2 linked regions of the Homo sapiens genome follow. The protein of the gene in region 1 interacts with the protein of each later gene in a pairwise test. Each region holds a gene or a part of one and is shown on either strand. Other genes may lie near its edges. The genes, in order: CMAS and RTN1.

Region 1 (3,259 bases):
AAACCCGTAATATCTCTAAGATATTCCTGTATGCAAAATTACCATTATCTCTCAGGGGTAACTGCAAATAATTTGCTTCCTCCAAATAAATACATAATCTTCATAATATATAAATTTATTTGGATATTTGTATTTGTGTATACTGCTGATCCTTGAACAACATGGGTTTGAATTGTGTGGTCCACTTTTATGTGAATTTTTTTAACCATGTGCAGATCAAAAATACATGTGAATCATGCAGTATATGGAGGGCCCACTTTTTGTATATGTGGGTTCAACAGTGTTGACTGTGGTACTTGAGTATGCACAGATTTTGGTATATGTGGGTGGTCCTGGAACCAACCCCCACATAGACCATATGCTGTTACGTATACATATGTGAAGTACAATCAGATGCTCTACCCCGGCATCGAGTGGCTTGTTTCTCACTAAGATTGGTTAATGTTTAAAGGAAAGAAAGAAAATGCATGGTAAATTTCTTCTAGAGCAACAAGGCAGTTTTCATCAAGTTTGAGAAATGTAGTTTTATTAATAGAAGGGCATGTCTTACCATACACACTGTCCCCAGATAAATAAAATCCCAACATCTTTGAAAGCACACAAACACACAGTTTTACAGGGTACAATACAAAGTGAACTTTGATGATGTTCTTACTTGCATTTACTAAAAATCTGAGAAAGACTGTAATCAGTCTCTAAATAATTATCTTGCGTAAAGAGAAAAGTAGAGCACAATATATATATATCACAAACCAAATCACACTCTCTGTAACATTACAACATGGAATTTACTTAATCAAAAATAAAAGCAAACTGGCTGAAGAAGGCTGTATCATTTTTTTCTCAATATTACGCTAATTTCTATTTTTGGCATGAATTATTAACCTTTTCCATTAGTAGGCAAATGTGCTCTGCAAATTCTCGGATGGCACCACGGCCACCATTACATTTGCAAATGTATCCAACAGCCTTCTGGGCAGTAGAACAGGCATCAGCAGGAGCGCCACTTAGGCCCACTCTCTTCAAGCACTCTTCATCAGACACTTCATTTCCTATCAAGTAAAATAAATACTGAGCAAACATTTAAAGAGACAAAGAATATTCTAGCTAAATAATGCAGACAGCAACCAACAGGTAACTCTGGCAACTTCAGTAAGACCTAGGGGCACTGCATATAAGAATACTAAAGATTAGATGGAACAAAAATATTTTACAGTATAATTGAGGTCCAGGGTTTTCCCTAAGCAATCAAAAATAAACTCTTATGAGCTAGAGAAGAAGAATGGAGCATAATTGCTACCTGCCATGCATATTACAAATGTTAGAAATTTTATATATGAATTCTAAGTAAGTTATTTAAATTTTTCATTAAGCAAAATTTCAAACATATGCGAGAACCCCAATTTTATATTGAAAAATTATCAGAATTTAAAATCACTTAGTAATATTGTTTTCTATGCACTGCCCCCTAGTTTATTTGGGGAAAGGGAGAAGAAGGAATTCCCAGACATAATATTTTATCCAAAAACTCTTCAATATTTATCTCTGATAAATATAATTTTTTATCTGACAGAATATCATTAAACCCACAAAATCAGTAATAGTTCCTTAATATCCTCTAATAACCTAGTATATGTTGAGATACCCCCAGCTGTCTCAAAATTGTCCTTTTATAGCTGACTTATTTGAATCAGGAATGAAATAAGGTTAACATATGGTCTTTTGTTTATATATATATAATCTCTTAAATCTCTTTTAATCTGTAATGGTTCTGATTGGTATGCCATTTATTAATAGTTGCTGAAAAATTACCATTTTTAAAGAATAAAAATAGATACTAAATCATACTGACATAACGATATCCTTTTCCTCCCTCTCTGTTAACCCCTTTTTTGGAATAGGATGCATTTCAGAAGCTCCCAGTATCTTTAATTCACCATTCTGAGTAAAACTATTACTATACTTTAGACCACATACAATAGTACAATCTTGGTTGAAGAGAGTTTCTTTTACATTTGTTCTATGCTTATCTACTGAAATTTTCTCATTTATTATTAAATGTGTTGAAATTTGAATCGTTTTCACTAAAATAAAAAAAGTTAGTATTTGCATAATCCAGCCTTTAAGCTCTATTTACTAAATTTTACTTATAAAAGTATTGATTTTTTTAAGAAATATATTTTTATACACTTATGTCACCCATATAAAACATTGGTGAGTGAGTTATTATTTTTTTTTTTTGTAGACATGGGGCCTCACTATGTTTCACAGGCTGGTCTAAAACTCCTGAGCTCCAGGGATCTGCCTGCCTCCGCTTCCCAAAGTGGTGGGATTGTAGGCATGAGCCATCATGCCTGGCCTGCTGTGAGTTTTAAATAAAAATGTAAATGCTCTTCTCCATTTTCTTACCTCTCCTTTTAAAGTGTGTGTGTGTGTGTTTTTTTTTTAATGTCATATAAGTAATACGTATTCGTGGTAGAAATATTTTTTTAAAAAATAGAAGCAAAAAAGTCACAATCATCCTAATTATCACTATTTGTAGATAATCACTACATTTTGACACATATAATTCTAGAGTTTTACCTATATAAATGATACACTTATTACTATCTGTAGGCACTATGTTAAGCATTTTATATTATCTTTGTTTTTCTTTCTAATGGCTTTATAAAATTTGGTTTGTGTTTATATTCTAAGTAGAAAACTAAGGTATACAGAAGCTTGCTTAACATCCCAAAGAAAGATAATAAGTATAGTTGGAATTTGTTATACATTCCACTAAAATTTTCTTCTAATAAAAATTGGATCTGTCTTTAACAAACATTCTGCAGCATTTATGTCCATTAAATCTTCATGTGTGGTTTAAGGGTTATTCCTGAAGTCTCTAGATCACATGCTCCCAAAGTTTTTCCTGTGCTTCTTATTTTGAGGCTCATATTACCCTTGTAAATACTGCTTTCATACATGATTTATAGTTATTATGCATCTTAATAACTTATCAATTTTAAAATGTTGACATCATCAGACTGTAAGCTCTGCAAGCAGAAAGCCTACAGTTCCCACAACCAGTTCCATGCTGCGTATCATCATAGGTACCTGGTAAGTAAGTGTATTGCTTAATATCCAAGTGAAAAACATTGTTATATTTGATCATGCAAATAAATACAGGTCACAGCACTGTTTGTAATGGTTGCATAGTAATCCTTTTTAGGGATATTCTATTTTTCACAGGACATTTAAGTGGGTTCTTTTAACTTCA
Region 2 (7,526 bases), on another chromosome or scaffold:
GGGAGGTGGAGGTTGCAGTGAGCCAAGATCACGCCACTGCACTCCACCCTGGGTGACAGACCAAGACTCAGTCTCAAACAAACAAACAAACAAAAACAAGAAAACATTGAAACATTGGGGAAAGTCTCAAGGATATTGGTCTGGGCAAAGATTTCTAGAGTAATACCCCATAAGCACAGGCAACCAAAGCAAAAATGGACAAATGGGATCACATCAAGTTAAAAATCTTCTGCACAGCAAAAGAAACAACTAAGTGAAGAGACAACCCACAGAATAAGAGAAAAAAATTGCAAATTATCCATCTGACAAGGGATTAATAACCATAATATATAACGAGCTCAAATAGCTCTATTAAGAAAAAATATAATGATCCAATTAAAAATGGGCAAAATATCTAAATAGACATTACTCAAAAGAAGACATACAAATAAATAGCAAACAGACATATGAAAAGGTGCTCAATATCATTGATCATTAGAGAAATGCAAATCAGAACTACAATGAGATGTCATCTGACTCCAATTAAAAAAACTAGAGCTACCATATGATCCAGCAATCCCAGTTTTTTATATATTATGGTTATTAATCCCTTGTCAGATGGATAATTTGCAATTTTATTCTCTTATTCTGTGGGTTGTCTCTTCACTTAGTTGTTTCTTTTGCTGTGCAGAAGATTTTTAACTTGATGTGATCCCATTTGTCCATTTTTGCTTTGGTTGCCTGTGCTTATGGGGCATTACTCTAGAAATGCTTGCCCAAACCAATATCCTGGAGAGTTTCCCCAGTGTTTCAATGTTTTCTTGTTTTTGTTTGTTTGTTGGGTATATACCCAAAAGAAAGCAAAAGTATATTGAAGAGATATCTGCACTCCAACGTTTATCACAGCACTATATTATTCACACTAGCCAAAATTTGGAAGCAACCCATGTGTTCATCAAGAGACAAATGGATAAAGAAAATGTGGTACATATACACAATGGACTATTATTCAGTCATAAAAAAGAATGAGATCCTGTCATTTGCACAACATGGATGGAACTGGAGGACATCTGTTAAGTGATATAAGCCAAGCACAGAAAGACAAACTTCTTATGTTCTCACTTATGTGTGGTAAATTAAAATTAAAACAGTTGAATTCATGGAGATAGAGAGTAGAACGGTTTCCCAGAGGCCAAGAAGTGTAGTGCTGGGAGGCTGGCAGGGGCCTGAGGGGCATGGAGGTGGGACAGTTAATGGTAGATATAAAAATATAGTTAGATACGAGTGAATAAGATCTAGTATTCACTGGCACAATGGGGCACCTACAGTCAACAATAATTTATTTTATATTTCAAAACAACAAAAAGATTATAATCGGATTGTTTGTAACACAAAGAAAGGATAAAAGCTTGAGGTGATGGATACCTTATTTACCATGATATGATTATTATTCATTGTATGCCTGTATTAAAATATCTCATATACCCCATAAATATATACACCTACTATGTACCCACCCACAAAAATTTTAAAAAAAATCTCCAGGTTACAGTTGAGGAACCTGGGTTGTAGAGATGTTAGGTAACTTTAATATTGAGGCTGGAAAGAATTTCATCTTGGTTAAAGCTTGTTACTTGTGGCGCTCTTCCTGCATGTCCCCACACCGTGTTTCCCCATGATATATGGTTTGGACTAAGTTAAGAAGCTAGTGCTAAATAAATGCTCCTCATTTCTTCTTTTCAAATGATGAACAAAACTTCTTTTCCAAAAAACAAAAGCTGAAAACAAAACGTGACAGTTCTTTTGTCTCAACTCTTCTTGCTAAGAACCTTTTAAAAGTGACAATCCTATTTTCTCTGTGTCTGAAAAGCATTTTAGAGTAATTCGTAACTTAGAGCAACTATGTAAGCCCCAGAATCCCATTGCCGACTGTGTGTTTTGCCCATAAATCTTCAAATTAGTCAAGCTTTGTCAGTTCAGAGCGGTGCAAAATAAATAATATTAATAAACATGAATCATTTCAAGTCATAGCATAAACCTGAAAATTTCTTCCCCCAAATAGATAATTTTTATACATCCAAAGGTGGAGTCTAATAAGGAAAGTTAGTAATGAAAATTGCTAACACTGAAATCTTGTGCTCATCTCTTTTCAGCAGTGTAAAATAGAATACTTTATCAAAATGGAACTGTCAATAATGTTCAATTTCCTTTAACAACTACACTCTAAATAGATTTAACTGGCTATTTCCTTCACACATTCTCAATGAGAGTATTGATTAGTATGAAAGAAATTGACAAATAATTAGAATCATATCCCCAAACTTCCTATCTATTAATCATAAGGAAACACAGAGGCTTGCTTAGGTCTCCCAGTTTTTTAATGATGACTTTCATTCATGTTTCTCAGAGAAACAAAAGAATATACTTCATATTATTTTGTATGTAACTCCTTTGCATAGCAATTCTCAAATATTAGTATTCATCAATAACCACTTTAAGGTTATATCATTAGAATTGTCTATGTTCTTGTCTTGTTATCAGTAATAAAACCATGAGAAATTCCCATCTAGTATTTCTGATGCTTTAGGGAATACTAAGTAATAGATTTGAAAAAACTTACAAGTGCCCTCTAATTACAAGACAGGATTAAGCTCCATGGAAATACAGCAGTGGAATAAGCTTTTCAACTTAACGGTTTTTTAAATACACTCTTGTTTTCCCATGGAAAGATGTTTAAAAATCATTATGATTCATGATAACCAATTATTTTGTTGTTTTTGGATGAGATTATTTTTATAGATTTATTGAGTTATAACTGACAACACATTAAATTGTTCATATTTACAGTAAACAATAAGTTTTGACATATGTTTGCACCTGTGAAGCTATAACCACAATCTAGATAGTGAATATTTCCATCATGAGACATAATTTTGAGTATGTCAAAAATGTAAAATTTTGGTGACCATCAGATTTCCAGGGATATCTGGCTTCAGGAGGCCATATTTATTGTTTAGTGAATGATTTTTCTCTAATTTATTGTCATCTTTTGAACATTAGTGCACTAGCAGAACAAAAGATTAGGCAGACTCTGGGCTTTTTCATTTTAGCATTATTGAGGAGCACCTGAATGGTCCTGAAGTTGGCCTTTGAATATACCAATGGACAGGTATGAAATCCTCAAGATGCGCATGGTGGCCAAGAGTCCCACAGTCTCACAGTGTGTGCGGTACCGTCTGCGCCCACCTTTCCTAGAGAAGAAACAGCAGAAAAACCTATTCCTTCACCCTGTGTGTTGTGGTGAATCTTAGTTTTTAAAGGCACATTATTTTATTATATAAACAACTTGGGAACCAATAAAACACAAGACATTTGAAAAGATGGGTCTTCGTATGGGCACAACATATGATAAGGCAAGTCACTTTCCTCCTCTGAGTTTGGGTTTATTTGCTGACTATCTTCCATTTTATCACAGTGAACTGTAAAGAAAAAGATGCAAGCTTCATGGAATGTCCAAATTCTGAAATACAACGGACTGCACAGACAGCTTATGATTAGGATGGCCTTGGCTCAGTGTTTCTGAAAGCAAATGTACAGCTTTTGTCCTTGCCTATTGACACCCTGTTTGCCCTCAGGGCTGGTCAGGGTGAGATCTGTTAAGCTTTTTTTGGAGGCTGTCCTGATAACTCATTTCTTTACTCCACTATTTTCAGGCCCATTCTGGAAACGCAGGATTTAACCGCGGGGTTGCAGCTTCCCTGGTCTCCATCTGCCATCAGAACCCATCTCCACCCCTTCCCCGTTCAGACCTGTGTCCCCTCCACAACTCATACTGGTCACTCTCAGAACTGTGGCCCTGAGTTCTCTAGCTTTCCCTCTTTGCCTCGGGACCCAGGACACCAGTCGGGGCTTAACTTTCTCAGTTGGGAAGGCGACGCTGCTGGTGGCTGCTGCTACTTGCTGGTTCTTCCTTTTTTTTCCTCCCCAAACGAGAGGAAGATTCGAGTGGATTTGGCACATCCCCTAACCGGGGCCTGCCATTTGCAGGTTGGGGGCTGACGTGCCCAGGAGGACCCGGACCAAGCAGGCCATTTTCACCTGCGTAATAACAGGATTGGGAATAGCGAAGCAGCGGCGGCAGCAGCGAGTGGAGTAGGAGGAGGAGCGCAGGCAGCGGCCGCGGCGGGGCCGGAGGAAGAGGAGGGGGGAGAAGGAGGAGCTGAAGCGGGAAGAGCGGCAGGCAGCGGCTCGGCGGAGTTGCAGCAGAGGCGGCGGCGACGCTGAGACACCGCAGCTTCCCTGAGCGCCGAGTCCCTCCGGGGACAGCAGCAGGGAGCGCCCGCGCAGCCACCGAGCCTCTGCCCAGCCAAGCCGCCGTCGCCGCGCCGGGGGACCGCCAGCCATGGCCGCGCCGGGGGATCCGCAGGACGAGCTGCTGCCGCTGGCCGGCCCCGGGTCCCAGTGGCTCAGGCACCGGGGGGAGGGGGAGAACGAAGCGGTGACGCCGAAAGGGGCCACGCCGGCGCCGCAGGCTGGGGAGCCCAGCCCGGGGTTGGGCGCCAGGGCCCGGGAAGCGGCGTCGCGGGAAGCCGGCTCGGGCCCCGCCCGGCAGTCGCCCGTTGCCATGGAAACTGCATCCACAGGTAAGGCGGGCGCCGCTGCCCCTCAAATGGCGTCGGGGACCAGGGCCCCCCAGTCAGTCCCCTTCTGCGCGGCTCTCCTGGGCACCTGCCTCGCGCTTTCTGCCTTGAGCGCCGACCCCACCCCCGCGTCGCCACGGGCGACTGGGAATATTCGCGGGCTGGTAGAAAACAACAATTTTATTTTTCCCAAAGGCTCAGAAAAAGTCAAGATGCTTTTGATCCTTTTATTTCATTATCATGATTATTTCCGCTTTAAAAATTGTTCTCATAGGCAAACAGCAGCATTCTGGCTGCTGGCGAGTCTGGGTACAAGTTTCTCCCTCCTGCCAGGAGGCTCCGAGCTGTAGGGCCCGTTTGACAGGTTGTGGGGATTTTGGGGGGCGTGTTTGCGCGCAGTGTGCGCGCCGGCTACAGGAGATGCTGACAACCGAGCGGCGGGCAGGCCCGCGGCCCCTGGACCCGGCTCTGTCCAGGGCAGAGATGTGGCTGTAACTGCCCCTTACCCTTGCCCTCCACGAATCGCCACCACACCTTACTCCCCCCACATCCCTCCGCCTTTTCTCCCGCAGAAAACAAATCCCAGGGAGTTTGTCCCTAATTCGGGAGGCACAGCTTTGCAAGAGGGTTGGGTGCTGTGGCTGCCCCCGCCCAAAACCTGTATTTCGCCGCTGCCCGGATGGCCCCACCTTGCAGGGAGCATTGAAACTTCAAGTCCTAAGTGCGGCGGGCCTGGCTGTGGGTTGGAGGGCTTGGGTGGTGGTGAGTGGACGTGGTACAGTTTACCAGCAGTCTAAGCGCCCCCCCCCCCCCACCCCGGAAATTGCCCTGGGTTTGGCCATTCTTCGCCTGACGCCCTATTCAAAGTCTGAGCGCGCCAGTGTCCAGCGGGAGCCCAGGCCCCTGGCGCATCCTGGTCAAAGGATCCAGGAAGCGCGCTTTGAGGCTGCCGGCCTGGTTAACGCTGTTTCCAGGGAGAGGAAAGGGGATGCTGTGTGGTGCTCTTTCCTGAGAAAGCTTTGCTATGGTGGAGTGGGAGTTGTGTAGTTTTGGCAATGTAGAGCTAGAAGGCCTGGGGTGGGGGGTGCTCCCAGAGGAGGGGAAGGGGAGTGGGACTGGTGTGTGTGCTCTTGGTGGTTGATTTAAAGAAACCCCTTTTCGTAAGCTTCTCTTAAGGGTTATGTGGAATGTCTAAGGTAATCGTAATTAACTGCCCTGGTACAGAAGATCTGAGCTGGGGAAAAGAGGTTTGGAGAATGCGTTGAATAAAAATTGTCAATATCCTGAAAGGAAGAGAAAAAGTGGAGACCCTATATAAGAAAAAAGAAAAAGAAAGAAAGAAAAGTACTCAAAAGCCCCAACGCCAAACGCCAAAGGTTATATATTAATTATTATATCCCTAGGAGTGGGGGAGGATTTAAATCTAAGAATGGCTGCTCAGTCTCTCTTTCAACTTCTGCATCCAAGTGAAAACAAAACTCTTTATAATTGCAAAAGAAGATGGCAAATGATAATAGACAAAGGAAGGTAGTTTTTGTCTTTACCATTCTTTGTTGAGGATAGACTGCTCATAGTTCAGAATCTTTATCCACTGTAATCAAAGTAAATTGTTTCTTTATGAAACATTACCCACCTCCTATTAGTGCCACTAAGATTATGTGAACTAGAAAAAGGAAGCTAAGTGCCCCATGCTCAGTAACATATCCACAAAAGTTATTATATAGGAAATGCTTAGAATATATATTTGTGGGGTACAGTGTGATGTTTTGACATATGTCTGCATTGTCAAATGATTAGCTAACAAATCCATCATCTCATGTACTTTTTTTTTGTGGTAAAAGCGTTTAAAATTTACTCTTTTAGCAATTTCAAAATGTACAGTGCATTGTTACAGAAAGGTGGCTGTAGTAAATAACAATGCATTTTGCATTTTTAGTATTATTATTATAGAAATACCTTGCTTTATTGAATGTGTTTGGGGTTTTCTATCCTAGGCAACAAATATAGTAATAAAATCAAACATGATACTACGTTTGGATGGGAGAAGAATGAAGAAAGATGGAAGGAGCACATATTTTGCATATTTATATAGAAATTTTTTAGTTTATGATTGTGGCTAGAAGGAATTTCTGATATAGTTGTTGATTGGTTAATGTCTTAAATCTCTGTGTTTCTTATTAAGTAGACCGGATGTGCTGCTATAAGAGACTCAAACGCCAGAAATGCTGTATAAATAAATAACTAGATCTTAAAATTCCAAACAAATCTTGTCCAGCTTCCTGGTCTGTTATTTTGGCAGTTCTATTGCTATAAGCAAAGTTAGCAGGTGAGCCCTCAATTGTATCAGAGATGCCTATTAAGCACACTACTTTACACTGTATTTCTTAATTTACTTTTTTTTGGCTTATAAACAGAAATTTATTTTCTCACAGTGCTAGAAGCTGAGAAATCTAAGATCAAGGTAGATTTGGTGTCTGGTCAGGGTCTGCTTCCTGGTCCACACACAGCTGTCTTTTCACTGTGTCCCCACATGGCAGAAGAGTGCTTTATTTTTTTAAAAGAGTGGTGCTTTTTTGGGACTCAACTCAAACTAAGAAGTAACTTAGACTTTGAGTGTGATGCACTGTAAACAGATTTTGTTTCTTTTTTAGATGGAAATATAAGACAGATATTGATGTTTTAATAACTGTTTTTCTGAAAAACATCACCAATCATGCCATCTGGACAGATATTCTGTTATTTATTTTTATACATTGATGGTAATTAAAATTATCCCAGGAACATTTCCAAAAATATGTCTCAGCAGTGTCCTGGAATGAATATAAGTTTAAACATTATTAAAACTGCACCATAAAACTCCATCAATCCTCTATTTTCAGGTGTTCTCATTGCTTCTGTCCCTTTTGT

The links.
Region 2: the proteins of CMAS (region 1) and RTN1 interact in a two-hybrid assay, tested with the Homo sapiens proteins (one study listed by IntAct).

Annotation. Positions count from the first base shown.
Region 1 is NC_000012.12:22,062,914-22,066,172, reverse strand, and holds the end of CMAS (N-acylneuraminate cytidylyltransferase), read right to left. Parts: intron 2,401-3,259; exon of another isoform or gene 2,246-2,400; intron 1,053-2,245; coding exon 862-1,052; 3' UTR 505-861; downstream 1-504. UniProt on the Homo sapiens protein: Catalyzes the activation of N-acetylneuraminic acid (NeuNAc) to cytidine 5'-monophosphate N-acetylneuraminic acid (CMP-NeuNAc), a substrate required for the addition of sialic acid.
Region 2 is NC_000014.9:59,867,486-59,875,011, reverse strand, and holds the start of RTN1 (reticulon-1), read left to right. Parts: upstream 1-4,235; 5' UTR 4,236-4,381; coding exon 4,382-4,622; intron 4,623-7,526. UniProt on the Homo sapiens protein: Inhibits amyloid precursor protein processing, probably by blocking BACE1 activity.